Homo sapiens: one gene and its partners. The protein of the gene in region 1 interacts with the protein of each later gene in a pairwise test. Each region holds a gene or a part of one and is shown in the gene's direction. Other genes may lie near its edges.

Evidence for each region.
Region 2: the proteins of CRACR2A (region 1) and GIGYF1 interact in binary tests that used the Homo sapiens proteins (3 or more experiments, as listed by UniProt).
Region 3: the proteins of CRACR2A (region 1) and NOTCH2NLA interact in binary tests that used the Homo sapiens proteins (3 or more experiments, as listed by UniProt).
Region 4: the proteins of CRACR2A (region 1) and FKBP6 interact in binary tests that used the Homo sapiens proteins (3 or more experiments, as listed by UniProt).

What each region holds. Positions count from the first base shown.
Region 1 is NC_000012.12:3,638,099-3,645,124, reverse strand, and holds part of CRACR2A (EF-hand calcium-binding domain-containing protein 4B), read left to right. Parts: intron 1-484; coding exon 485-530; intron 531-3,286; coding exon 3,287-3,393; intron 3,394-4,345; coding exon of another isoform or gene 4,346-4,463; exon of another isoform or gene 4,464-4,756; intron 4,757-6,667; coding exon of another isoform or gene 6,668-6,670; coding exon 6,671-7,001; intron 7,002-7,026.
Region 2 is NC_000007.14:100,691,241-100,698,571, reverse strand, and holds the start of GIGYF1 (GRB10-interacting GYF protein 1), read left to right. Parts: upstream 1-4,321; 5' UTR 4,322-4,462; exon of another isoform or gene 4,463-4,635; intron 4,636-7,331. UniProt on the Homo sapiens protein: May act cooperatively with GRB10 to regulate tyrosine kinase receptor signaling. May increase IGF1 receptor phosphorylation under IGF1 stimulation as well as phosphorylation of IRS1 and SHC1.
Region 3 is NC_000001.11:146,163,018-146,170,043, reverse strand, and holds part of NOTCH2NLA (notch homolog 2 N-terminal-like protein A), read left to right. Parts: intron 1-5,033; coding exon 5,034-5,293; intron 5,294-7,026.
Region 4 is NC_000007.14:73,331,148-73,338,173, forward strand, and holds part of FKBP6 (inactive peptidyl-prolyl cis-trans isomerase FKBP6), read left to right. Parts: intron 1-509; coding exon 510-629; intron 630-7,026. UniProt on the Homo sapiens protein: Has an essential role in spermatogenesis. It is required to repress transposable elements and prevent their mobilization, which is essential for the germline integrity.

The sequences.
Region 1 (7,026 bases):
AGGCAGGAACTTTTTGTTTTGGTCATTGGTGTGACCTTGATGGCTAGAAGAGTGCCTGACATGCAGTGGGTGCTCAGGAGACATTTGAGTGAATGCGTGCATGCATGCATGAGTGAATGAATGAATGAATGGTGCACAGAGAGAAAGAAAGAGGGAGCCCAACAGGAAGCTCCCAGGTGGAGCTGGAATGCTGAGGTCCCCTCTGTAGGCAGTGCCCCTAATAATAAGAGAGGCCATGCATAATCCTGATGGGCCACGGGTGTCTCAAGGGCATTCAGTCTATCCCCCACATCTGTGTGTACCTATCTGTACACAAAAACTATCCTCTACCATTAATCACATCCCTATGGAAGGAGATTCCACAGACTCCCCTGTCTTCCATACCACACCTTCCCCTGCACCCATCTGAATAGCAAATTGGCTGCCGTTGGATCTGTCAACTGCAAACTCCATGTTTGAATAGATTCCCCTTTACCATCCACAGGGAAAGGAACAAGCACCTTCGGGATGAACGGGACATATGTTTTCAGGTAATTGGCCAGTTCTCCCTTACCTGTGGGGGACCAAGGGCTGTGGTCCACTGGACAGCCAGATCCATGTCGAGACTGGCCCAGCAATGTCCTGACACTCGGGATCTATTTGGCAGGATGACGGCATGAAAACGTTTTGCAAATAATAAAAATTCAGGGTGGCCTACTGGGTAACAACGTGTTAATTTTCCACAGAGTAATGCAGTTTCCTCTTGGCACAACAAGACTGAAATATTTGGGAGGGTCGCACATTTCTTGGATGCAGAAATGATAGTTCTATCCATGAGATGGCGCAGTTGAAATGTCATTATCACTTCTAAACCAAAATGCTCACACCGTTCTTCTTCATTTAAATTTTTATCTCGATGAAAATTTTGCATTTTATACTGTCATAGACCACATTAGAAATGTGTATTTCACTGTTTTCATACTTGATTTTATGAACAATTTTTCTCTATCCTATAGGGACCCCTACTCTTCCATACCTGAGTACCATGTCTCTCTCTCTATATATATGTAGTGTGTGCATATATATATATATATATGAGTCGTAGAATCACAAAACTGCTAAGCACTTTGAGGTCATCTGGACTGCCCTCTCCACCTCTAGTATTAACGGATGAAATTCCCAGCTGTGAACCCCAAAGTGCATTCTGCAGTTTATATATATATATATAATATAAATATATATAATATATATTATATATTAATATAAATATATATAATATATATAATATAAATATATAATATATATTATATATATTTATATATAATATAAATATATATATAATATATATTATATAAATATATATATAAACTATATATATATAGTCTGTGTGCATATATATGTATGTATGTGTATATGTGTGTGTATATGTATGTACATATATATATATACACACACACACTTTCCTAAACGACATGAAATCCTATATTTATTTGAAGGTCTTCACTGTGGACCACATTGGCCAAAACCTAGGATTCCATGTTCTTACTCATCTTTCCCTTTAGACAGGAGCCACTGGGTGCTTTGAAGGGAAGAAAAATGAAGGCCAAATTGATTGATGTGACTTCCTAATTATCAGGGTTACCATCCTATGAATTTCATGTGGGTCCCTGGGCAAGTCATTTACTGCCTTGGACCATGACCTCCGCTGTCACGCGAGGAAAGTGAATTCCCATCCCCCCTCCATACAACAGGAATCTTTGAGAAAGATTCTTGGAAAGGGGATGATGTGGATTGCACCCTTAGCTGAACGGTGACCTAGATATGGTCAGCAGAAGGCAATTGGTTTGCCCTAAATTAGATCTGACCTGCTTTATAATTGCAAATCCCTGAGGGACTGCATTACGCCACAGTTTCTTTTCCATTGCTGACTGGCAGCAAACATCTCTGCCACCCACCTGTGTGTACTATTAGAGCAAGACTTGAGCCTACACATGTTTGTTTGATGATGATAATGGTTATAATTGTTTTAGAAGTAACACTGAATTTATTTTAAAACTTCCAACCAAATGTCACCCGAATCCCTTCACCTCCCTTCCCTTTACCTGCCAAACTCATTCTGCTTTGAAAGGGGTATGGAATTAAGAACTTCTGTGGGGAATCAAAGAAAGGGATAAATTCAATAAGAATTGAAGATTGATTTAGAATCAGCATAGCCATACCTTCAGGGGCTCTGGGAGCATTGCAGCCCCTCCTCTCATTAAGGATCACTGGGAATCATGGGATGGCTAATTAACGAGAGAGATTTCCTGCAGTCTAACTCCCCCGCCTCATCTCCTGGAAGACATCTGTCAGGGAGCATAGGCAAAGGGGGTTGTAAACCCCTGCTCCACCCAGGTCCTGTGTTACAGATGTTAGTAGTTTATCTACACCCAGCCTACTTCCACCAAAGAGCTGAACTACCTTATGCTAGCTCAGGACAGAACACTGAGTTAATTGATCCTCCTGGCTAGTTACTTTCTCATTACATCTGAGGCTTTAGAAATAAAAAGGGATTGGAGCCAGACAGAAGAGTGTGAATTAAAGATTCACAGAGTTTTTTATGCCTGTAAATATTTTTTCTTTTTTCTATCTGACCAGGCGTGGTGGCTCACTCCTGTAATCCCAATACTTTGGGAGAGTGAGACAGGAGGATCACTTAAGGCCAAGAATTCAAGACCAGCCTGGACAACATAGCAAGAGTCCATCTCCACAAAAAATGAGAAAATTAGCCAGGCATGGTAGGGCGCCTATAATCCTAGCTACCCAGGAGGCTGAGGCTAGAGGATTGCTTGAGTGCAGGAGTTTGAGGCTGCAGTGCGCTGTGATCATGCCATTGCACTCTGACCTGGAAGACAGAGCAAGACCCTGTTTCAAAAATATAGATATATTTTTTCAGAAGAGATAAGTGTTTAATGTATATTTTCTAGATGCATTAGAAATATGTATAGAAAATATGCATTAAACACTTATCTCTTCTTTTCCTTTTACAAATCATCAGTGCTCCTGTGAATAGCATGATGGGCCCCAGGCTGTAAACTGTGCACTTGTTCATTTGATTAGCTGACTGGAAAGGAGATGGAGGGATTCTGGTAGGGGATGATGGCAAAAGGGAAGAGTGGCTAGACGCTAACAGGGAGACCAGAACACTGCCTACTCCTTTCAGAGTTTTGTGTAGAGCCTAGTCTATGAGGTGGGAACCATGAGCCCTTTTCTGTTCAAACATCGGAGCAAATAGGCATGGATCTGAGGACATTTTGTGTTTCTACAGAAAAATAAGGCAGCCAAGGCAAACACAGCTGCTTCCAGGGCAAGTTGGAAAAAGAGATCTGGCTCTGTGATAGGCAAATATGTGGACAGCAGAGGGATTCTTAGGAGGTAAGTCATCTCCACTTGCTCATCCCTTCATTCCTCTCAGGCTCATTGGGAGCTGGCTCTGGGCCCATACTCAGTGCCTGCTGACCCCTTGAGAGGTGCGGAAACTGAGGTCAGCTGCACTCACTCCCCTCAAATCTTGGAACACATGCCCCTCCCTGTTCTGACATCTAAGCCAGAGGGGGAATGTGCAGAGCAAACCCCACAGGACAGACCATTGTCTTCTGAGGCTGCCCCACCCTACTGTGTGTTTGCAGAGAGGGACTGCAGAGCAGCAGAGGAGAGGGGTCAAGGGAGAGGGAGGGAGTGTGTAGCTGGGTAGCACTACACTGCTGTCTGCTGAGCAGAATGGATGCACTTGGTTTCGGGGTTTTTGTTGTTGTTGTTTTTTGAGACAGAGTCTTGCTTTGTTGCCCAGGCTGGAGTGCAGTGGTGCAATCTCGGCTCACTGCAACCTTTGCCTCCCAGGTTCAAGCGATTCTCCTGCCTCAGCCTCCCAAGTAGCTGGGATTACAGAGGTGCGCCACCACGCCCATCTAATTTTTGTATTTTTAGTAAAGATGGGATTTCTCCATGTTGGCCAGGCTGGTCTTGAACTCCTGCCCTCGTGATCTGCCCGCCTCGGCCTCCCAAAGTGCTAGGATTACAGGTGTGAGCCACCGTGCCCGGCCAATGCACTTGGTTTTTTAGGAACATGACTATATTGGCTATGAAGGTTAATTAAACTGTCAAATAGAATCTCCAATAGTTAACTCCTTTTACAGACAAGGCTAGGGCTTGTGCTTGACAGATCGTTTCCATGACCTATATTTAATTAACTCAAACATAACACATTTTGTTGCTCTTGGGCAGCACATGATTGAGCTTGAGTACCCAAGGGTTGGCTCATTGCTCATTGAGAGACAAACCAGTCCCCTGCCCACTCTTCATTTTGGCATGTGCTGTGTCCACATAGATGGCCACAGAGAGATAGAGGCATCCCGACTCTTCAGTATCAGACCCAGAGAGACCTTGAAGACTGCAAGCATGAAATGAAAAAGATATGCAAAGCGGAAGTGACTCTGGAGATGTAAATCAGCTCATCAGTAAAACCTTTGGGCCTGATCATCATGAATTCTTGTTCTAAATAGCTGAATAATGAGATACAATTTGGGAGCCAAATCTCTGCAATAGTGGTTGGCCTGTTGGTTCCTCAGAATGGAATGGATTGATTGATTGATTCAGCAGACGTTTACTGATTACCTACTGTGTACCAGACATTCTTTTGAGTTCTGTAAAGCCTCCAAAAATAAATTAGACATGAGGTCCTACCATTAATCTCCATTATTAAATGCTCACTTAATAAATATTTATTGAGTGTCTACTATGTGTGAGGTCCTGTGCTCTTTGCTGGATATACAGTAGTGAGCCAAATGGACCTACCTCTGTGTCATTGAATTTCTGGTTGAGTGGAAGAAGCAGACAATAATCAAGTAAGCAACAAATTGTGAGCCCTGAATTCTAATGCAGACTTTGACAAAAGTAGCTGCTGTCCCTACGGATGGCAGAGAGCACTTGGTGGTAAAACCAAAAATGAACTCAGTCATGCCGTGATGCAGGTATTACAGAATGGCAGTAGTGCTTGAGAATTTCCCAGACAGAAAGCTTTTTCCAAGAAATGCTTTGTTTTAATGCCTGTTTAAGTGACTATTTCTTTTCTGGTTGCAAAGCCTTTGAAAAAACATGCTCTGTGTGTGTGTATGCGTAGTTGCTCATGTGTACATACAAATAGTCACTTGTGTGTGTGTAAGCAGAGTAAAAGTAGATGGGAATACCAATTGTGTTCTTAAACAAATAAGCACTTAATAAGCTTGATGCAATATATAGGAAGTTTGCTGGAAAGAAGACATTTGGCTTTTTTAAAACTGTTTTTATAAGTCAAAGGAAAGGTGCTTTAATTGCTGCAAATCCTTTATTTTTCATATCAAGGAATCCAAACTAATTCACCCTTTCTTCAAGCAAGCACTATATCGTAATTTATCTTGCAGAATCGCAGTTAATTTCAGGATGGTGATACCTGCATTTTTTTTTCTTTTTCCTTTCTACTGTTGATCTTTAAGAGTAATACATATTTTAAATTAGGGAGCAAAAGAAAGTGTATTTCTCTGTTCTGCATATTCTGTGTCCTTCATTTAGTTCCTTTCTCCTTTGGCTCTATCACCCCACTGCTTCATCCCCATTCCATTTTCTTTTCTAGTCTGTGTGCATGCTTGCATGCGTGTGTGTGTGTGTGTGTGTTTCAATTCTGGACTTAAGGTCCTCCCTGTCAAACTTCCTTTAAGACAATTTCTGTGAGGCCTTTGCTCTCAAAACCTACTGAAAATACAGACCCTGCATTGACCCCCACATCCAGTTCCCCGATTCCCTGCACTGCCTACAGCTTCTCCTTGCCCTTAGTGCTCAAATGCTTCTAGAAGATATTTAGGCCTCTGAGCCACTTACTCCTGATTGTGACTTCTAGGGATACAGAAAGGGGAAGAGAAAGGGAGAGGAAGGAGAGGTGGATGGAGATGCTCTGCCTGGCTTTCTTCTGACCCAAAGCCTCTTGTCTAGGGGGAAGCTGCCTGTGAGCCAGCAGACCTGCTATGTCTGGAGGTGGGGGGCCCTCCCAAAGCAACAGCACCCCTCACACTGCTGAGGATGTTTTGCAAACATGTCTGTTTTTATGCATTGACTTATTTGGGAATAGAGCAGATGGGCCACGTTTTACAGCAAGGTCTGAAGAGTTGGAGTGTCCTACCTAAGGACACACAGTGAGTAAGGGCTGGCGCTGGGGGCAGAGCCAAGGTCATCTGCTAATGTTAATCGGGGGCGCTTTATTAAAATCTGAGTCTGAGACACGTTTCTTCACAACCTTTCCTTCTCCTTCACAGCAGTCTCACAATTTGTAAAGGATGTATTTATTTGTGTCATTATTGCTTTAGTCCCCCACTAAATCAAGTATTCTGTGAGGACAGGGATTATGTCCATCTGTAAATGGCATCTTTACTTAATACTTGGTCATCATCATCATCATCTTTGTCATCATCTGCCACAGCAGTGGCAGCAGGCACTTAGTGGAAGCGTGTTGAATGAATGAGCTGCAGAATGCTGGCTGGTTTGTTTTTCCCTCTCCCGGACTGCTCTTGTCCAAAGGTGTGATGCTCCTTGGGTATCTGTTCGTCACAAAAGCTGTTATGCAGCCCGTATTGAAATATTTTGTGAAATCCTCCCAACTCTTCTCTCTTCCCCGCCCCAGTAGCCAGTCAGAGGAGGAGGAGGAGGTGTTTGGCATCCCAAGGAGAAGCTCCCTGGGCCTGAGTGGATATCCCCTAACAGAAGAGGAGCCAGGAACCGGGGAGCCAGGGCCTGGGGGTCCGTACCCCCGGCCGCTCCGCAGAATCATCTCCGTTGAAGAAGACCCCCTGCCCCAGCTCCTGGATGGTGGCTTTGAGCAACCCCTGAGCAAATGCTCAGAAGAGGAAGAGGTCTCTGACCAGGGGGTACAGGGACAAATCCCGGAGGCCCCACCCTTGAAACTCACCCCCACATCCCCCCGAGGGCAGCCTGTTGGAAAAGAAGCCCTGTGTAAGGTAAGGGCACAGCCTACCTTGGTTC
Region 2 (7,331 bases), on another chromosome or scaffold:
GGAAAACACTGAAGAGGAATCTGCCATTAAAAAAAAAAAAGTGGGGGCGGGGCGGGCGTGGTGGCTCATGCCTGTAATTCCAGCACTTTAAGAGGCCAAGGCAGGTGGATCACGAGGTCAGGGGATCGAGACCATCCTGGCTAACACGGTGAAACCCCGTCTCTACTAGAAATACAAAAAATTGGCCAGGCGTGGTGGTGGGTGCCTGTAGTCCCAGCTACTCGGGAGGCTGAGGCAGAAGAATGGCATGAACCCGGGAGGCGGAGCTTGCAGTGAGCCAAGATCGTGCCACTGCACTACAGCCTGGGCATCAGAGGGAGACTCCGTTTCAAAGAAAAGAAAGAAAGAAAAAGGGCCAGGAACGGTGGTTCACGCCTGTAATCTCAGCACTTTGGAAGGCTGAGGCAGGCAGATCACCTGAGGTCAGGAGTTTGAGATCAGCCTGACCAACATGGCAAAACCCATCTCTACTAAAAATACAAGACGCTTGAACCCGGAGGAGCGGAGGTTGCACCACTGCACTCCAGCCTGAGCAACACAGCAAGACTCTGTCTCAAAAAAAAAAAAAAAAAAAAGAAAAGAAAAAGAAAAGAAAGGCAGAGGCTGGCTGTTTGGTCTGCGTGAGACCACTCTTTCATCTCCATTAACCTTCCAAACAAATCTCTTTGTTTAGTTAAAAAGTTTGCAAATTTAGAACACAGACCAAGACATTTTACAGAGCAGCACCTGAACAAACAAAAACACATTAGCTCCAAATGATTTCTTTATTTTGAGATGGAGTTTCGCTCTTGTTGCCCAGGCTGGAGTCCAATGGCGTGATCTCTGCTCACCGCAACCTCCGCCTCCTAGGTTCAAGCGATTCTCCTGCCTCAGCCTCCCTAGTAGCTGAGATTACAGGTACGTGCCACCACGCCTGGCTAATTTTGTATTTTTAGTAGAGACGGGGTTTCTCCATGTTGGTCAGGCTGGTCTTGAACTCCCAACCTCAGGTGATCCACCTGCCTCAGCCTCCCAAAGTGCTGGGATTACAGGTGTGAGCCACCATGCCCGGCCAATTAGGTCCAAGTGATTTCTTTGTAATTTTTAAATTCTTCATGGGAGACTCACAGTTCTTTTTTGTTTTTTATTATATTTTTTCACTTTTCTCTCTTTTTGAGTCAAGAACTCATTTTGTTGCCCAGGCTTCTGGGCTCAAGGAAGGACAAGGTTTATTAGCAGCATGAGAACTGACTAATACAATCACGGTGGAAGACCAGAGGGGTCTCCCTGGATCTCCTGGACACCAATGTGTGACTTTGGACAAGTAATCCCCACCAACTGTAAAGTGTGAACACTGATGCTGAAGTCAGCAGAAATTAAAGCCTATAAACTCCCTCTTTGAGAAAGGAAGCTAGCTGGCAGGGCACGGTGGCTCACGCCTGTAATCCCAACACTTTGGGAGGCCAAGGCGGGAGGATCACTTGAGGCCAGGAATTTGAGACCAGCCTGGCCAAAACGGTGAAACTCCATCTCTACCAAAAATACAAAAATTAGCTGGGCATGGTGGCGCCTGTCTGTAGTCTCAGCTACTCAGGAGACTAAGGTGGGAGGATCACTTGAACCCAGGAGGTGGAGGTTGCAGTGAGCTGAGATCACGCCACTGTACTCCAGCCTGGGCGACAGAGCGAAACTCCGTCTCGAAAAAAATTAAAATATTAAATAAAATATAAAAACAGACAGCAGGACAGGCACAGTGGCTCATGCCTGTAATCCCAACACTTTGGGAGGCCAATATGGAAGGACTGCTTGAGCCCAGGAGTTCGAGAACAGCCCAGGCAACATAGTGATACTTCAGTCTGTACAAAAATTTAAAAGTAAAAAATAATAGCTGGGCCAGGCACAGTAGCTCGTGCCTGTAATCCCAGCACTTTTGGAGGCTGAGGCAGGTAGATCACCTGAGTTCAGGAGTTCGAGACCAGCCTGGCCAACATGGTGAAACCCTGTCTCTACTAAAAATACAAAAATTAGCCAGGCATGGTAGCACACACCTGTAATCCCAGCTACTTGGGAGGCTGAGGCACGAGAACTGCTTGAACCTGGGGTCGGAGGTTGCAGTGAGCTGAGATCACGCCACTGCACTCCAGCCTGGGCAACAGGGTGAGACTCTTTCTCAAAAAAAAAATAAATAATAAATAATACCCGGGTATGGTGGTGTGCCACTCCCTGCAATCCCAGCTACTCGGGAGGCTGAGGAGGGAGGATCACTTAAGCCTAGGAGGTCGATGCTGCAGTGAGCTGATTGTGCCACTGCACTCCAGGCTGGGCAGCAGAGCAAGACCCTGTCTCTTAAATAAATAAAATAGTTAAAAAAGGAAAACAGACAGGAAAACTCCAAGTGCAGAGAAGCCTAGTGGTACTTGGTGGGGGAAACAAAAGTTGTTCCAGGTATAATAGTTCCTGAAGTCAACACTCTATCATGGCAAGACACCAGGCACTCAAATTCCAAGTCATGAACTTACCTTTTCCTTGTTTTGAGGATTACATTGTGTTGGGCGACAGCTCTTTTAGGCTTCTGGGAAGTAAGGTATACATTCTGGAGTAACTTCCAAAGAAAAAGGTGAAAGCATACGCGGAACTTTTGAGCCTTGAAAAAGTTCAGCGAGTCATTCTTGAAAAGTCCTTTTTTTAAACAAAGGGGGTTTCAGTCACCTCACATTTGCATAGCAGTTTCTCTCTTGTCAAAGCCTTTCACATTCACTTATTTTAATTCTTACAGCACTCAAGGAAGAGTGTGGAGTTGGGGGTCGGGGGTTGGGTGCAGAGCAGTGTTAACATCCTTCTGTAAGAGAAACGGAGGCTTTTGAGAGGCCAGGCGTGGCGGCTCATGCCTGTCATCCCGGCACCTTGGAAGGAGGATCCATTTGGGTCCAGGAGTTCCCGGCACTTTGGAAGGAGGATCATTTGGGTCCAGGAGTTCAAGACCAGCCTGGGCAACATGGGGGAAACCCTGTCTCTACAAAAAAAAAAAAAAAAAAAAAAAAAAAGCTGGGCGTGGTGGTGTGCCCTGGTAGTCCTAGCTACTCAGGGTGCTTGAGGCAGGAGGATTGCTTGAGCCCAGGAGGCGCAGGATGCAGTTAACCGTGATCGCGCCACTGCACTCCAGCCTGGGCGACAGAGCAAGACTCTGTCTTGGAAAACAAACAAACAACAAATACAATAAATTAAAAAAATTAGTTGGGTGTGGTGGCACACAGCTGTAGTCCCAGCTACTCAAGAGGCTGTGGCAGGAGGATCCCTTGAGACCAGGAGTTCAAGACCAGCCTGGGCAATGTTATGAGACACGCCACCCGCCCAGTCTTTACAGAGAATAAAAAAGTTATCTGGGTGTGATGGTGCACACCTATAGTCCCAACAATTCAGGAGGCTGAGATGGGAGGATCGCTTGAGACACGGGAGTTGGAGGCTGCCGTAAGCCGAGATCGGGCTAGTACACTGCAGCTGGGGCAACAGAGTGAGACCCTGCTTCAAAAAAATAAATAAATAGGGGCCGGGCGCGGTGGCTCACGCCTGTAATCCCAGCACTTTGGGAGGGCGAGACAGGCGGATCACTTGAGTGGTCAGGAGTTCTAGACCAGCCTGGCCAACAAAAATAAGCCAAACGTGGTGGTGTGTGCTTGTAATCTCAGCTACTCGGGAGGCCAAGGCATGAGAATCACTTGAATCCGGGAGGCGGAGGCTGCAGTGAGCCGAGATCGCGCCACTGGACTGCAACCTGGGGGACAGAGCAACACTCTGTCTCAATAATTAAATAAATAATTAAAAAAATAAAGAGGCTCCTGAGAGTCAACTTATTTGCCTGAGCCACTTATTTCACACATCCCAGGACGCCTGATGAAGGGTTCTGGATTTTATTGTCTCCTGTCATCCAGGCGGGCTTCCTGGAGGAAACCGGACCGCCAGGGAGGCCGCGGCCTCGGTCCCAGAGGTCGCGCGTCGCGGGGCCGGGGGAGGTGGGGGAGAGGAGGCCGCTCTGGGGCCGATCCCGCCCGCAGCTGGGGGCCCCCGTCACGTGACCAGCCGGGCGCCCAGGTCACGTGTCGGGGCGGGGAGGGGGGGGGCTGTCGGGGGCGACGGGCGTCCGGGCAGTGGCGCGCGCGGCACGCGAGCAGCGCACGAGGAGAGGTGGCGCGGGCCGGAGCCGCGGAGGGAGGCGGCGGCGGCGGCGGCGGCGGCGGCGGCGGCGGCGGCGGCGGCGGCGGCGGCGGCGGCGGCGGCGGCGGTGGAAGGGGCGGCCCCGCGGCCCCGCGTCCGCGTCACGTGGTGCGAGGCGGGCAGCCATCTTGCTACAAACACAAACACAGAGGAGCGGCCGCCGCGGGAGCGCCAGCGCCCCCTCCCCCGCTGCTAGCCGCCGTCGCCGTCCCCGGCCCCCGCCCGCCGCGCGCCGCCCACGCCCCGGGACCGGACCCTCGCGCCGCCCGCGGTAAGCGCCCAGTGGCCCCGCGGCCCCCGGCCCGCAGCCCAGCCCCGGGGCAGGCCCGCCCCCGACGCCGCGGCGGCCGCGCCGAGCCCGCGAGCTAGAGAAGCGCCGGAGCCAGCGCGCGGGCCGCCAGCGAGGACCCTCCCCCGTCTCCTCCCCGAGGCCGCCGCAGCCCGGTGCGTCCTCCCGCTCTCCCGCCCGCTCCGGCCCATCCCCGCCGCCGGGACCCTCCCCCAGAGCCGGCCAGCCTCGGGGAGGCCCCGGGAGGCCGGCGCCCGGCTTAGGGGGCGACCGCTCGCCCCCCTCGCACCTGGCGCCCCTCCCTGAAGGGCACGCCGTCCTCCCGGGCCGGCGCGCTGCCTTCCACCCCCGCGCTCCTAACGGTCGCCCCCGGGCCCCTGCCAAGCCCTGCCCTGGGCCGCCTGGGGGCCCCCGACCCTAGCGTCCTAGGGTGGCCGGGCCCCGCGCTTCCCGGAGTTCTCCCCAGCGCGCCTTTGGGTTCCCCTCGGAACGAGCTGGGCCTTGCGGTTCCCCAGGTCCAAGCGTTCCACGACTTTGGCCAACATGGAAGCCTTGCCCTCCACCCAGGCACCTCGCCTGGGTCCTCCTCACCTCTGTTTCCTTTCGCTCCGGCGATCTTAGTGCTGGGTCATTGGGGTCTCCTTCTTCCCAGTTGCTCGGCCGCGGGAAATACCTTCCTTAGCAGAGACTGCTTGTCCTCCCCGTCCCAGGCCAGGCCCTTCTCAGCTCATGCCCCTCCGTGCAGCAGCTCCCTGGCCACAGCTCTCACACTTTGCCTTAAAAAAAAAAAAAAACAAAAAAATTTCCGAGTAACTTTTTAAAAGCCCCTCGTCTCTCTTCTCTGTTATACAGTCATTACTCGCATTCCCGGTCAGACTCCAGGTCTGTTGCATCCTAGTGCTAGGAACTAGGAGATGCTACATAAAGACTTGTTAGCTGGATTGGATTTTTTTTTTCCAGCCACCCAAGCCTTACTTCCCTCCTGCCTCTCAAAGTGTCGTTCTGGAAGATCGTCAGCTTTCCCACCCTCTTGTGCACTGCCTCTTCGAGTCTATATAGAAGTTTCAATTTAGAACCCCGCCAACCCCTCGCCTTTGGCATGGAAACACCATCGGTGGTACCAGTAAGGGTCTCTCCTTTGCTGCCGACATGGGGGATTTGGGGTTCTTTCTCCTTCCCATCTTTCCTGTGCCCTTTGCAGACCTAGGCTAGCCACCCTCCACCAGGCTAGCCAGCTCCAATCTGATTTTCTTAGATTGTAGGTCTTGGTCCCCCAGCGGTCTGTCGTGCCATTGGGAAGGATTTGAGGGTAGACCTGGCCTTGGTGTCCCTGCCATTGCCTGGGGACCAGGGGCCCTGAGGGTCCCACGTGGTGGTTAGTCAAGTGGACCATGTGCTTAAACTTCTGGACTAGCTTTTTCTGCTGTTGGACACATCAGTCTTGTGTTCGTGATCTGATGCGTTAGCCCTAACTTTTACATCTGCTATTGGAATTTGGGAATTAAAGAAAAATAGCCCACTTTAGAGGAGAGAAGATGAGAGGAGGAGGCTAGATGAAGGATGTTGAAAGTCTAACAAATGTAAAATGGCTTCAAACTCACAGAATAATGCTTGCGAGTTTGGGATGGTTACTGCTACCGTGCGCACCTCCAGTCTTGCATAGTGTCAAGGATGTCGGGGCACGCTGTCGGAGCAGCTTCCTCCTTCTTTTCCCTGGCTGGAGCCCAAGGCTGGGCAAGTGGGCAAAAGGGATCACAGGAGGTAAAGAGTGAAAATCCTTTGAAAACTGTTAACTTGTAGACAATTGCCAAGCGGTGGTGTGATTTGCTGGGATGGCTCAGAGAGGAGAGAGCTGGGATAACCGACCAGCCGCGAAGAATGCGGGTTTGCATCTCTTTTTTAAGCCTCAGCGTCCTCACCCTACCACGCTTGGAGAATCTCCATCCTGAGAAAGGGCCAGGTCCCCTCCAGCAGGCCTGGGGCTGGGCGGTTGTTCCAGTGTTGAGGAATTGGGGACTGTGCTTCTGTTTAAGTGGCTCTGTTCTGTGCCAAGGCACAGTGCTCTGTGTTGGAGCTAATTTTAGGGGTGATGGAGTGAGGAGATAATGTTCTTAGCTGAATGTGCACTGGGACCGCCTGTTCTCTGTCTTTTCTTTCTCTCTTGAGTTCTGAGCCCCAGAGAGCAGGCTCCCTTTCCCGCGCGCCCTGGCGCCTACTGGAGCACCCGGGCCCAGCGTGTCCTCGCCCCTTGTCTCCGGCAGGGGGCAGTCTTTCAAAAGCATTGATTCAGATGCTGGGGGAGTGAGGGTAGACAGGCCCGAGAAAGAGAAGGGGTGGGGAAGGGGCGAGGAGCCGAAGTAGGCCGAGGCTTGAGGGCAGGGCCAGGGCGGGGGACAGGCTGGAAGGGGCCTGTGAGAAGGAGACCCTGAGCTGAGAAAGCTCAGCCGGGTAAGCTGAGACGGGCAGGTGGCAGTACCCCAGCCCCCGCCACCTCCTGCTCTTACCTTCATTGGACAGGGATCAGATACCTGGCCCTGAGAGCTTGCAATAGACAAACTTAGGCAGTTTTTCTTAAAAAAAAAAAATCTATTCTTTTCTCAAAGATTTTCTCCTGGCAGGATTTCAGATTTCCCTCGTGGGACAGTGTAATTAGGGAATGATGTCCCTGCTGTTCAGAGAGGAGAATGACCCAGCGTGCACACACCTGCCTTCCCTTGCCTTCCCCTTGGCCCAGTAGACCCCCAAGGGCTGTGCCCATGCTCGTGGCGCAGAGGAGGGTGTCTCAGCACTGGCGCACTTGGTATCTGGAGTCACATAGCTCTTGGCTGTGGGGCTGCCCTGTGCACCCCCT
Region 3 (7,026 bases), on another chromosome or scaffold:
AAGTGCTTTACCCTTATTTAAAAATCCTATGAAGTAGGCACTGTTATTACATCTCTTTTACGACAGGGAAGTTTAGTACCTTGCCCAAGACTACACATTGAGTAAATGGTGGAGTTGGGATTGAAATCCAGGTGGTCTGGTTCCAGAGTCTGTACTCTTAAGAGCAGAACAATAATAACTCCAAGCATTTATTAAATTCTCAAGATTTATCCGGCACCATGCTACATGCTTGTATTCAAGCAGAGGCTGGTGATCATCTTTTAGAAATATTTTAGAAATGATTACTTAATTGGATAGAAATTAAATTTCTTGAATCTGAAGGTTCTGTTATTCCAAGGATGGCTGGAAATGGGGGAAAAGCCAGCAACAAGATGATGTCTGGCCTGAGGCTTTTAAGATGATCAGAATTTGTATCAAAAAGGAAACTGTGAACACGAATGATAAGTATTATAGGAATTCAGTTAACAAGTCTTGTCAGAATGTGGTAATAAATTATATACAACTTAAAGAGATGAAGTTACTTTAAATTGTGTGTGGAAGCCTTAGAAAAATTGAATAATTAAAGTTTCTTGGGAAGATGATCTCCTTTTACAAATGTTTAGTTTCAAATAGTGGCAGCACATATTAGGATAGAGAGATGACTTCTAGAAAACTGAACATATGGGACTGGAACAGTGTATTTTGGAGTCAGTTACAGGAAGGAAGTTGTTTAAAACCAAGTGAACAACAACAGTAACAAATGCATTTGAGAGAAAGAGCAGTGCAGTCCAGACTTAAACATTAGGGTGGCCATAATAGATGGGGAAGAAGGAGAAATCAGCAATCCAGACTAAGACTTCACTGGGTTTTGAGTTAGACAGAGGGAGGCATAGAAGCCAAGGTAAAATGATTAAAACGGTACATGGAGTGGTTAGCAATTCTCCCTATAGGAGAGAGAATTTCCTTATGAAGTTTCAGATGAGACCACTGAACTTGACTAGAGGAAAGTCATTGTTTTTAGAAAACAGTTTCTAAACAATAATTAGAATTAAAGTTTTGTTGCAGAGGGATAAGTAAGAAGTAGATGGAAAAGAAAGAGGAATATCTGAAATTAGGCTACAGTCATAGAAGGTTAGCTGTGAAACAATAATTTGGAAAGGGAAATGGGACCTCATGAAAGTGTGGGTTAAAAGAGACTTGTATATCTTCTAAGGTAAAAGTAAAGAACTAAGCTGATGTCCAGCCCTCTAAAACATTTTAAATAGAAATCAAACTTTATTAATACAGTAGGTCTAGTTTCACGTAAAGCAAATATATGGTTCTGTACACGGGCTTTAGGAGAGTAAGTCTGTTGTACCTCATATGTAAGTATTATCCCATTTAGAGGAAAACCCTAAGTCTTTCTTTACAGTGGCTTAAAGGCCCCAATTGATCCACATCCCAGTTACAGCTCTCATCTATTTTCTGCTGCTCCAGATATTCTTGCTGTTTCTCAAACACGCTAGGGCTGCTCTCTGTGTTATGGCCTTTGCATTTGCTGTTCCCTTTCTCATGAATGTGTTTTCCTAAGATACCTGCATGATTACTCTCACCTTATTTAGGTCTCAACTCAAGTATTGTCAGTGAAGGTCTTCTCTGATTTTCCTATTCTAAACTGAGATACTTCTCTTTGCTCACCCCACACCCTCATCCCCAGCTCCATTCCTTCCTGTTTAATTTTTTTTCACAGCACTTAACTCCATCTATTGTGCATCTTTTACTTAGTAATTTTGTTTTCGTCTTCCGCTATTAGAATGTAAACTCCAAGAGTGTAAGAATTTTTCTAGCACTGGAAAAATGCCTGGCACATAATAGGCATTTACTAATTGTTGTGTGAATGAACGATTATAAGTTTAATATTCTTTGTGGAAACTAATAAGGTTGATTTCCTATCAGAAACCGATCATTATTAATAAGCATATTGGATGGTATTTATAGAATTAGCCTTCATATGTTCTCTACTCAGAAGTTGGCAAACTTTTTCTGTAAAGTGCCAGAGAGTAATTATTTTTGCAGGCTTTGTGGTCTCATTACAGCTACTTGACTCTGTTGTTGTAGTGGAAAATCAGCCATAGACAATCTATAAATGAATGAGCATGGCTGTGTTCCAGTAAGACTATTTATGGACACTGAAATTTGAATTGTATATAATTTTGAAATGTCAGAAAATATCCTTCTTTTGTTCTTTTTTTCTAATCATTTAAAAATGTAAAAAACTATTCACAGGCCAAACAAAAACAGGCAGTGGTCCAAATTAGACTTGCAAACTGTACTTTGTCAATCTCTGGTTTTACTGATTTCTTAAATATATCTTAGGTTAAAACTTATTTTTCCATACTTGATAGGGAGCAACAATGTGAATTAAACTGTAGAAACAAATAATTCAGAAATACATCTGTTTAGCTTTAGAAACTTCCATTTTGCTTCATTTTTGTTTTCCTGGGAACCTTATATTTCCATTATATGTTTATGATGCTACCATTTAAATGACTTTGCATTCTCTTAGCATATGCCACATGATAGTGTTAGGGTGGTGTAATAGTTCAGGAGCAAAGCTGAGCAAAGCCCACCCACGTTTAAAAATTTGCCATTATTTAGAAGGTGCATAATTCCCATATGGGAGAATGAAGAGTCATCTAATAATGCCCAGAGGGCTGCACTGTGAGTGAGAATTGTGTTGCAGTTTTTAACATTCATAACACATTTCTTGAATAAGCTGCAAATGCTTTTAATAATATATCTCAGAGTTAATTTTAGCTATGCTACATTGGCACTTTTTGCTCCTCCACTTCAAAAAACCAACACAAGAAACTATTCTCAAATCAAGCTGTGATTTGGATGGGGCATTGTATTTTCCTCAATAAGCACAAAGAAGAGAGAAAAGATGTTTTCACTTGGCAAAACTTTTTTTTTTGAGATGGAATCTCACTCTGTTGCCCAGGCTGGAGTGTAGTGGCACAATCTCGTCGGCTCACTGCAACCTCCGCCTCCCGGGTTCAAGCAATTCTCATGCCTCAGCCTCCCGAGTAGCTGGGATTACAAGCGTGCACCACCACCCTGGCTAATTTTTGTATTTTTAGTAGAGCCAGGGTTTCACCTTGTTGGCCGGGCTATTCTCAAACTCCTGACCTCAGATGGTCCTCACACCTCAGCCTCCCAAAGTGCTGGAATTACAGGTGTGAGCCACTGTGCCCAGCCCACTTGCAAAACTTTTTAACATTTATAAGGTTTTTTACATACTTGATTTTGTTCAGTTCTTAGAATAATCTCATGATGTAGGTGACCTTATTAACTATTTACAATGTGAGAAAATGGATAGTCAATGAAGATAAGTAACTTGTCCAAGGTCACAGCACCAGAACTCCAAACCAGACCTTCTGACCTTCTTGATACAGACTCCTCACAGTCACCTGCATGCCATCTTTGGTTTCAGTGCTATGAACTTTCTTCACTGCCTGTTGGTCTGTAGCTACACCTACTCATGAAGATGCCCAGAGCCTTAGCCGCTCCTTGCTCTGCCATGCTTATCTTATGCAGCTCTGGGAGGGGTGAAGAGGCTGTGGCCAGTTACCTCACTACCACTATAGCTATTCACCACCCTGTTTTCTCCTTTAGCCATTTTAGCTACTACACAATTCTTCTGGGCATTTTCTGTCTTAGTTCCCTAGTATCTGGCCTTCCCTCTTTTCTCAGTAACTGTGACCCCTGCTAGCTAGCCTTGCCAACCAATGGTTAATGAAAGGTCTTGGATATGACTGTCAAAGACAAAAGCACTCATGACCCCAATGTTTCAGGTCACAATGATTAGGAAAATCAGGACAACAAGGCTTGGGCACAGAAAAGCTGGTTTTTGAGAGGGGGATTTAGAGTTTGGTTTAAATGTGTAATCTTTGAGGTAATGGTGGAACAGCCTACTAGATTCAGTTTTCTAGTCCCTGAAAACTAAAACGAGGAATAAGTTGAATCACATATTTGGGGCACCAGCCAAATATATAGCAGCATTTATAGTTAGAATCAAAGTGTTTGTGTTTCTTAATTTAAATGCTTCTCAGAGATTCCATTTAAACAACTTCATTATGAAAATGGAGACTTACCATGCCTTTTTGATATTGTTCAGAGAAAATTGTCATAAATAATACACACAGTTTGAAATGGTTGTACATCTTATGAATCAAGGGGTGGCATGTAAAAAGGTTCCTCAGTGCCTCAATGTGGAAAATATCATAGAATGTTATTCTTCAATTGATTCCTTCCTTGACTTTGGTGTTTATATGGTATCTTAGATATTTTATGTTATTTTAATTATATTTTGTGTCTTTTTATTTGGTTAAAAATGCCTACTTAAATATTAACAGATTTTTAAATATCCCTTTGAACTCTTCCCCATTCCTGTACCTCCTTTCCCTTTTTCCGTTGTAATGTCAGCCACCTGAACATAACCCAGAAAACTAGGTATCATCCAATTGATGTTTCAGTGGAAATAAGAGAAAGAAGCACTTACTATTTCTCAATGCTTAATTGAGGAAAAGCACATGATATCTTACATATTTTAAATTGGAGGGGATAATAGGGTCAAGTTCATGCATTATATTGTGGACATCTTAATCCTATCAAATGGCTTAGTCAAAATGAGAAAGTTAATGAATTTAAGCAGACAAGTACGAACAGTGCTCTAAAAAAGGTGCTGTTACACCATCCCAACCTGTACACACATGAAAAAAAGCTGGGGTGCATTTTGCGTTTGAATAAGGGTCATGTTGACTGGCCATGGCAGACCCTGCTAGACCATACACCTGATACTCTGTCACCTGCCAGGACTCAAAAGGACATGGGAGTATGTGGTTAAGTTCTCTAAGGACTCTTTCTTCTAAAGGGAAGCAGTTTTATAGGTGGTCCTTGTAGGTCTGTTGATTCACAATCTCGTGCTTTCTTGATTGGACTGTATTGTTTTACTGTAATTTTTTGGACTTACAAGAAGTCAGGTGTTTTCATGGACTCTTCTCTTTTCCATACAGATGTCCAGAAGGCTTCTTGGGGGAATATTGTCAACATCGAGACCCCTGTGAGAAGAACCGCTGCCAGAATGGTGGGACTTGTGTGGCCCAGGCCATGCTGGGGAAAGCCACGTGCCGATGTGCCTCAGGGTTTACAGGAGAGGACTGCCAGTACTCGACATCTCATCCATGCTTTGTGTCTCGACCTTGCCTGAATGGCGGCACATGCCATATGCTCAGCCGGGATACCTATGAGTGCACCTGTCAAGTCGGGTTTACAGGTAACTAATGAGACCAAAGCCAGTGCTTTCCTACCTTCAGCAGATACCTTTATTTAGCATCTTTTAGATCATGGTGTCTGGCTCTTAAATGTCCCCCAGCTCTGGTGCACATTTAACATTATGATAAGGAACTGGGATGTTCCAGACAACTATCCCTAACTTCCTTTTAAGAGTTTCAGGGGGCAGAGAAAGAGAAAGAAAAAGGACCAAATACTTTGACTGCTTAAAGTATATATGTCAGGGCCAGGTGCGGTGGCGCACGCTTGCAATCCCAGCATTTTGGCAGGCCAAGGCAGGAGGATCACTTGAGGCTAGAGGTTTGAGACCAGCCTGGGAAACATAGCAAGACCCCATCTCTACAAAAAAACAAGAATAAAAATAAAACAAAATTAGTCATGTGTGGTGGTGTGCACCTGTAGTCCTAACTACTTGGGAGGCTGAAGTGGAAGAATTGCTTGAGCCCAGGAGTTTGAGGCTGCAGTGAGCTATGATCGCACCACTGCACTCTAGCCTGGGTGACAGAGTGAGACCCTGTCTCAAAAAAAAAAATATGTACACCAGGATGGGGAATCAGAGTTTACTTCACTAAAAGAAATAAGTACACTGTCACCAGAGGAAAAGTTGCTGATGTTATTGACTATTTGCTTTTAGAAATCTCCCTCCCTAGACATTCAGGGCACTGGCTTTTCTGGTTTTCTGAACCCTGTTCCTTTTGCTTCTTCATTACCTTGTTCTTATCCATTAAATGTTTGTGCTCCCTGGAGCACTGTTTTGCGCCCTCTTTTGAGCCACATCACAGCTCTCCCTAGGGAATTTCACTGTCTGTATTCGCCTCCACTGCCACTGTCTTCATTAGCTTGCTGATGAATCTCACCATCATTCCCTTAGCTCCACCCAACCCTGACATTCAGGCTCATGTTTCTAGTTATCCTTTGTATGTTCTCCTTGGAGATATTCTACAGGTACTTTCAGCTCACCTTGTTGACAGAAATACGTAGCAACCATGTACATCCCAAATACCCACGCTAGAAACTCCCTGTCCCTTGTTCTGACCTCATTTCAACTCAGTCACCCAAGCCAACCTCTGAGTTGCCTTTCACCTGTCTATTCCTCCCATTTCCTCTGCTACCCTGTAGTTGAAGGCCATGTTATCTCTCACCTGGGCTTCTGAAGTAGTTTCTGAATACGTTTTCTTGCCTTTATTCTCTCCCCATCTCATTCACCCATGATATTACTACATCTTTGATTATAAATGCAAATATTCTAACAATCTCACCTGCTTACAATGTCTAATATTTTTTCATCATCCGCAGAATAAACTGCAAACTCTTTTACATGACTTCCATAGCTCTCTACAGCCTAGACTTTACATCTTTTTATAGCCTGGCCTCCCCACAAGCATCTAGGCCTAGTCACACCAAATTCTCCTTATTTCCTGAAAATGTTGTACTTATTATTGCTTCCATACAGTTACACACCCTTTTGCCTGGAATGCCCTTTTCTACAACTGGTGATTGTCCAATGTTATTTAAAACTGTGTCTCAGTGACCCTTTCATGATTCCTTTAGGCAAATGGTCTCTAAGTTTTATTAGTTTTATGTATCACATTTTATTGTAATTTTTTTTACACATATCTCACCTGAATAGATTGTGGGTTTTTCTAGGTGGGTCTGAGCTTTATTCAAAAGTGTTTATTAAATTAGATGAGAAAAGGAGGAACATTCTTCATTTTT
Region 4 (7,026 bases), on another chromosome or scaffold:
GCTCTATGGGTGACTCTGAAGATGGCCAGGGCAGAGCATCATGACCATAAAGACTGCCAGGGCCCTGAGCAAACCAAGACCTGTTCAGTGCTTGGTGGCCAAATAGTGGTTTTGAGCACTGACTTCTGTGCTTGGCAAGTTCCGTCAGTTTTTGATTCCATGGGACACTGCTTCCTCAGAGAACATCAGGGGAAGACTGAAGACGTAGACTTCCTTCTGGCTCTAGGGTGTAAAATGGGACAGGTTATAACACTGGTGTGGCTTCTGTCAGATTCAGAGGTGACTCCAACACAGAAGGCTGTAAACAGAAGTGCATGATCTGAAAAAGAAGAGCTCACAGCTGTAGTAACACTTCCTTTCTTTCAATTACTATTTTTTTAAATGGAGACATGTTCTCACTATGTTGCCCAGGCTGGTCTCGAACTCCTGGGCTCACGTGTACTAACACTTCCATTGTGGCATTACTGCTTTTGGTTTCCTTGCTGAATATTCCTGTCTCTGGTCCTCAGGAGCAGCAAGACCAATTTCCACTTCAGAAGGTCCTGAAAGTGGCAGCTACGGAACGGGAGTTTGGCAACTACCTTTTCCGCCAGAATCGTTTCTATGATGCCAAAGTGAGATATAAAAGGGTGAGAATGCTTTGAAAGTTAAGTGTAAGTTTAGATCCTGAAAACTTCCTTGTTTAAAAAACACAGATTTTGTTTTGTTGTGATTTTTGTTTTGTTTTGTTTTTGAGACAAGAGTGTCGCTCTGTCGCCCAGGCTGGAGTGCAGTGGCGCAATCTCAGCTCACTGCAAGCTCCGCCTCCTGGGTTCACGCCATTCTCCTGCCTCAGCCTTCCAAGTAGCTGGGACTACAGGCACCCGCCACTTCACCTGGCTAATTTTTTTGTATTTTTAGTAGAGACAGAGTTTCACCGTGTTAGCCAGGATGGTCTCAATGTCCTGACCTCGTGATCTGCCCACCTCGGCCTCCCAAAGTGCTGGGATTACAGGTGTGAGCTACCGCGCCCGGCAAAAAACACAGATTTTTGTCTTTCTCCCTACTTTCTATGAGCAGCCATTAAGAAAAATCTCATTTAAAAAAATCCTCATGCCAGGCCAAGGCAGGTGGATCACCTGAGGTCAGGAGTTTGAGACCAGCCTGGCCAACATGGTGAAACCCCGTCTCTACTAAAAATACAAAATTAGCCGGGCGTGGTGGTGGGTGCCTGTAATCCCAGCTACTTGGGAGGCTGAGGCAAGAGAATCACTTGAACCCAGGAGGTGGAGGTTGAGGTTGCAGTGAGCCGAGATTGTGCCGTTGCATTCCAGCCTGGGCAAGAAAGGCAAAAAAACTCCCATCTCAAAAAAAAAAAAAATCCTCATGCCAAAGGGATAAGTACTGGAGAGGGGACTAACGGGGGGATAAGGGCTGAAGAGGGGACTCTCGAGGGGATAAGGGCTGGAGAGAGGACTCACGGGATTGGGAGGCACCTGGGAATGTTCTGTGTTTTGACGTGGTTCTTGGGTACATGGGTGTGTTCAGGTTGTGAAAAACATTTGCCTCTGTATATGTACTTGAACTAGAAGTGTTTAGAATTTCCATCTCACTGCTCTAAAACAATTCAGTTTATTAACTTTTAAAAATTCTCATCCCAGTGCTTATTAGGTCCTCCACCAACCGATTTCTCCACCCCTTTGCCATCATCATTTCATGTCTCTGACAGTGGAGGCTCATTTGGCGATTCTAGCCTGAGGCAATTGCAGCCTCATCAAGCCTCCTGTTGTGATTTTGCTTCTTGTGTAGGTTATGCTGAGCTGTTTTCTGTTTCCTTTTTAATTTTATTCATTCAACAAACATGGCTGGACGCAGTGGCTCATGCCTGTAATCCCAGCACTTTGGGAGGCTGAGGCGAGTGGATAGCTTGAGGTCAGGAGTTTGAGACCAGCCTGGGCAACGTGGCGAAACCCCGTCTCTACTAAAAATACAAAAATTTGCTGGCATGGTGGTGGGTGCCTGTAATCCCAGCTACTTGGGAGGCTGAAGCAGGAGAATCACTTGAACCCAGGAGGCGGAGGTTGCAATGAGCCAAGATCGCACCACTGCACTCCAGCCTGGGCAACAGGGCAAGATTCTGTCTCCAAAAAAAAAAAAAACAAAACACCACACATGCGTGTGCTGTCTCTGGAACATACTCATATAGGCCAAATGTTGCCGACCCTGTCACCCAATATCTATTCCCCCTTCTCCTAACAGAACCTCCCATTTCACTCAAAGCATCAGTGTACTAATTAAAAAACTACATCTTCCCAGCTTCCCATGAGCTTAGGGTGTCCCTGTAACAAGGGTCTAGCCAAGGAGACATAAAGGGAAACCTCTGGAGGGTCTTCCAGAAAGCTCTTAACATAACACAAGCACCAGACTCTTCTCCCCTCCCTCCTTCCCACCCAGGTGACCCCGCAATGCGTGGCCAGGGGAGAATCTCCCTGGGGCCCGCCACACAGCTCTTGTCCTGGGGCTGCCCTATAATGCTAGTTTGTGGATTTCCTGTTTTTTTCTCAACTTACTCCTTTGTTTTAACAGAGTATGTTGATGTATGTCTAAAATATTCTTGGTTTTTAAATACATATTTGTCTAGAGTTGTTATTAAAAAGTCTTTTGGCTGGGCACGGTGGCTCATGCCTGTAATCCCAGCACTTTGGGAGGCCGAGGCGGGTGGATCACCTGAGGTCAGGAGTTCAAGACCAGCCTGGCGAACATGGTGAAACCCCGTCTCTACTAAAAATACAAAAATTAGCTGGGCGTGTTGGTGGGTGCCCATAGTCCCAGCTACTTGGGAGGCTGAGGCAGGATAATTGCTTGAACCCGGGAGGTGGAGGTTGCAGTGAGCCAAGATGGCATAATTGCACTGCAGCCAGGGGAATAAGAGTGAAACTCCATCTCAAAAAAAAAGGTCTTGCTAGTTCTGAGCTCAAAGCTAACAACAACAACAAAAAAATCTTACTACTACTTAGGTTCTTTATTCCTTTCTACGTGACCTGTTTTTTCTTCTGTAGAGACGAAGATCGTTTTTCCCCGGCATTCCTAAATTTTACGGTGATGTGCCTCTGCGTGTGTGTATCTTTTCATTCAGGAAACTTTTCCTCCACTCTGGGAAACTTTCTTGAGTTATTTCTTTGATAATTTACTCTTGTTCCCTCTGCCCTCTTTGTCTGGAACTCCTATTATCAGACCTCCTGCACTGAGCTTCTGGCTGCTGTCCCTCCCCCCTCCCCACCTAGTTTCCATCTTTTCTCCTGTTTGTGTCATGTATGGAAGCTTTCCTTGACTTTTTGCCACCTCTTCTGATGAATTTTTCATTTAAAACTGGGGGGCCAGGCACAGTGACTCACACCTATAATCCCAGCACTTCAGGAGTCCAAGGTGGGAGGATTGCTTGAAGCCAGGAGTTAAAGATCAGTCTGGGCACCATAGCAAGATCCCATCTCTACAAAAAATAAATTTTAGAAAATTGAAGGGCTATTTGTTCTTCCCCTCCCTAGCATTCTGTTCTTGTTTCATGTGTATATTATTTTATATATTTAGACTGTCGATTATAATTTAATCTCATTCTTTTTCTGTTTGGTTTTTCTACATATTGGGGACTGTGTCCTTTTGCACTAAGTTTGTCAATGACCTAAAGATGGTTTATTTCTCACTCATGTAAAAGGCTAGAGTAGAGGCATGCAAGCTAGGGCCAGTTGGTGACTCTGCTGCAGATATTTTCAGATACCCAGTTCTCATTTCTGGGGTGAGACTCTGGCCTTGTAGTCCAAGATGAGGGTCTCTGAGTTCTAGCAGCAGAAGGGAAGAAAGGCTGAAGGCATGTACAGCTCTGTTAAGGAAGGTCCTTGTCATATGATGCTTCTACTGAATTATGTTTTCCAGAACCTGTTCTCCAGGCTTTGCCTAGCTGCAAAGAAGCCTAGCAAATATCTAAATTCTGGTTGTACGTGTTCCTGGCCAAAAAAAAAAAAAAAAAAAGTCCTATTACTGTGAAGGAAGGGAGGGCAGCTGCTGGGAGGCAGGAGGCCACCTCTTTCACAGAGGGTTTCCTCAAATGGCTGGTGATCTTTGACCACTAAGATTTAAAAGAGACATCACAAAGCTGATTGGGAGCTCCAGGTGCTTGGTGGGGCAGGTTGCAGTGTGGTCAAAGACAGCCTGCACACATTAGAGTATGTAGGTGTTTCCTCAGGGTCCATTGAGTCCTCCTCTTTCTGCCCCGTGTGTGTGCCAAGGGACCGGCATTCTGGGAGCCAAGCTGGGCAGCAGGACAGAGGTTCTCACTGTCTGGTATTGAGATTCCTTTTCATAGCCGCGTTACCAGTATACCACCTTCCTGCTGTCTGCTCCAGCCTGCCCCCAAGTCAAGGGCCTCTTTGGTTCCATTTTCCCAGAAAGGAGACCTCGTGATTGCTGAGGCCATCTGGACACATAGGGGCAGTGGACGGGGTGGGGAACATTTGACCTGACCTCCTTTATTCAGCCCCACCAGATAGCTCTAATTCCTGGTTCCATCAGTTCCTAGGTCTCTCCAGGCTCTGAGGGGCAGACCGGTCCCTTTTACATTGGCACCACTCTGCCAAATCAGTCATCACACTGCCACCCACCCTGAACCTTTGGGTTTATTGGTCCTTTTCCTGTCCTTTGCTTGTGTTGGAGTACTACCTGTCTTAGTCCCTTAGGGTTGGAGAAAGTAGGGATGTGTGTGGAGCCTGCCTTGCTGAGCCAGAGGTTTTGCACGTCTTTTCCTAGTGGAAAGTTTCTCCGTCTTTGGAGCAGCGGACTGACATTGTCAGCACCACTGTGTCTCCACCTTTTGCTCAGCATTGTCTGGGTCACACAAGTATGGGGTTTCCTGCTTTCAAGGGATTTGAATCTAGTTAGGGAGTTAAATGCAGCTCCAACAGCTAACCAATACCTATGGTCTGAATGTTTGTGTCTCCCCAAAATGTGTATGTTGAAACCTAATCATCCATGTGATATTAAGAGGTGAGGCCTCTGGGAGATGATGAGGTCATGAAGATGAAACCCTCTTACATGGAGTTAGTGGCCTTATAAAAGAGGTCCCTGAGAGCTGTCTTGTCCTTTCCACCATAAATTCTCGGCAGGAAAAAAGATGAACAAAGTGATCAGAACCTATTCAGGCCACAGTTGGTAGATTCCTAGTCAGAAACATAGGTTACATCTAAGGAATCATAGGTGATAGGAGGCGGCCAGATTCAGGAAGACATTCAAATATGTGTGGATGGATTTGGACTTGATGAAGTGGATGGCAGGGAACCACTGAGGAAGAGTGTGTTGATAAAAGTCATATTCGGGGAAGAGGCAGTAGTTGTGCTGGAGCTCGTGAAAACTCAAAATTTCAATTGTAAAATTTTCAGGAGTTTTGTGCCCTCGTTAATGTCACTTTGGTAGTTTGAAATCAGCTCTGGGAGGAATATTTACAGCATAGGAATAGGCAAATGCTACAAACAGGGGTCCACCTCCCCCGAGAGCTGGCTATTAAACATGTACCAGCACACCACTGTGTGCAGGACATGTCAAATGACAAACTTCATTTTAATGAGGCTCTGTTTCATGTTAGGCACCGTGCTGGGTGTGCTGCGGCTGAACCTGTTAACAGGGTCCAGGAATGTGTTAAAGCAGCTGTGAGTTGTGCAAATAGAAGAAAAAGCTCTGGAAGTACTTCCACAAAATGGATGGTTAGACTTGATGACGTTGTATATGATGAAGTTGTATATATAAGAGATCAAGGAAACAGAAGAAGGGAATGACTTGAAACTTCCTGGTCTGAGAAAAAAATTTAAACCAAGGAATAACTGGGAAAGAAATGTGTTACTTTCAATTTTGATTACTCATGGGAATGAGCAGGTAAGCAGGGCCTGTAGAAAACTGTTTCCAGCTGACAACTTGCTTCACAATTTCATTTGGGTATGAGAGCAGGGTTCAGGCGTGAGGTTCCAGCTGGTGATGTGAATGGGAGCTGAATCCATTCAGAAGGTATGGAGACAGTTGATGGGAACTTGCCTGGTGAATGCCCAGAGTTTAGAGATGGAAGGGAGGACCAAGGAAGGCTCATGACTTTCTGCCTGTGCTGCCATCTCCTGACACATTTTCTCCAGTTCTTCCATGTTCTTTTTTTTTTTTTTTTTTTTTTGAGACAGAGTCTCACTCTATCACCCAGGCTGGAGTGTACTGGCGCCATCTCGGCCTCACTACAACCTCCGCCTCCCAGGTTCAAGGGATTCTCCTGCCTCAGCCTCCCAAGTAGCTGAGATTACAAGCGCCTGCTACCACATCCAGCTCATTTTTTGTATTTTTAGTAGAGGTGGGGTTTCCATGTTGGCCAGGCTGATCTTGAACTCCTGACCTCAGGTGATCCGCCCGCCTCGGTCTCCCAAAGTGCTGGGATTCCAGGTGTGAGCCATCGTGTCCGGCCTTCCAGTTCTTCCATTCTACTTGCACCTTCCAAATGGAGTTCCAGGGAGTGCAGGCTCTGCCTTCATCCATTTTTTTTTGTTTTACTATTTTTTTTCTTGTTGTTGAGATATGATTCACATACCATAAAATGTGTGCTTTTAAAGTGTCCAATTCAGTGGTTTTTAGTATATTCACAAAGTTGTGCAGCCATTGCCACTATCTAATTCCAGAACATTTTCCTCACCCCGAAATGAAACTCACAATTCTTTGGCCTCAGATAGCCTCTGTTCTCCTTTGTTTCTATGGATTTGCCTATTCAGGACATATTTTGTAACTAGAATTGTCAAATATGTGTCATTTTGTGGCTGTCTTATTTCACTTAGCATGTTTTTGAGGTTTATCCATGTTGTAGCTTGTACAAACCTCATTCTTTTTTTGTTTTTTGTTTTTTATGAGACAGAGTCCCTGTTGCCCAGGCTGGAGTGCAGTGGCACGATCTCGGCTCACTGCAACCTCTGCCTCCCAGGTTCAAGCGATTCTCCTGCCTCAGCCTCCCAAGTAGCTGGGATTACAGGCACC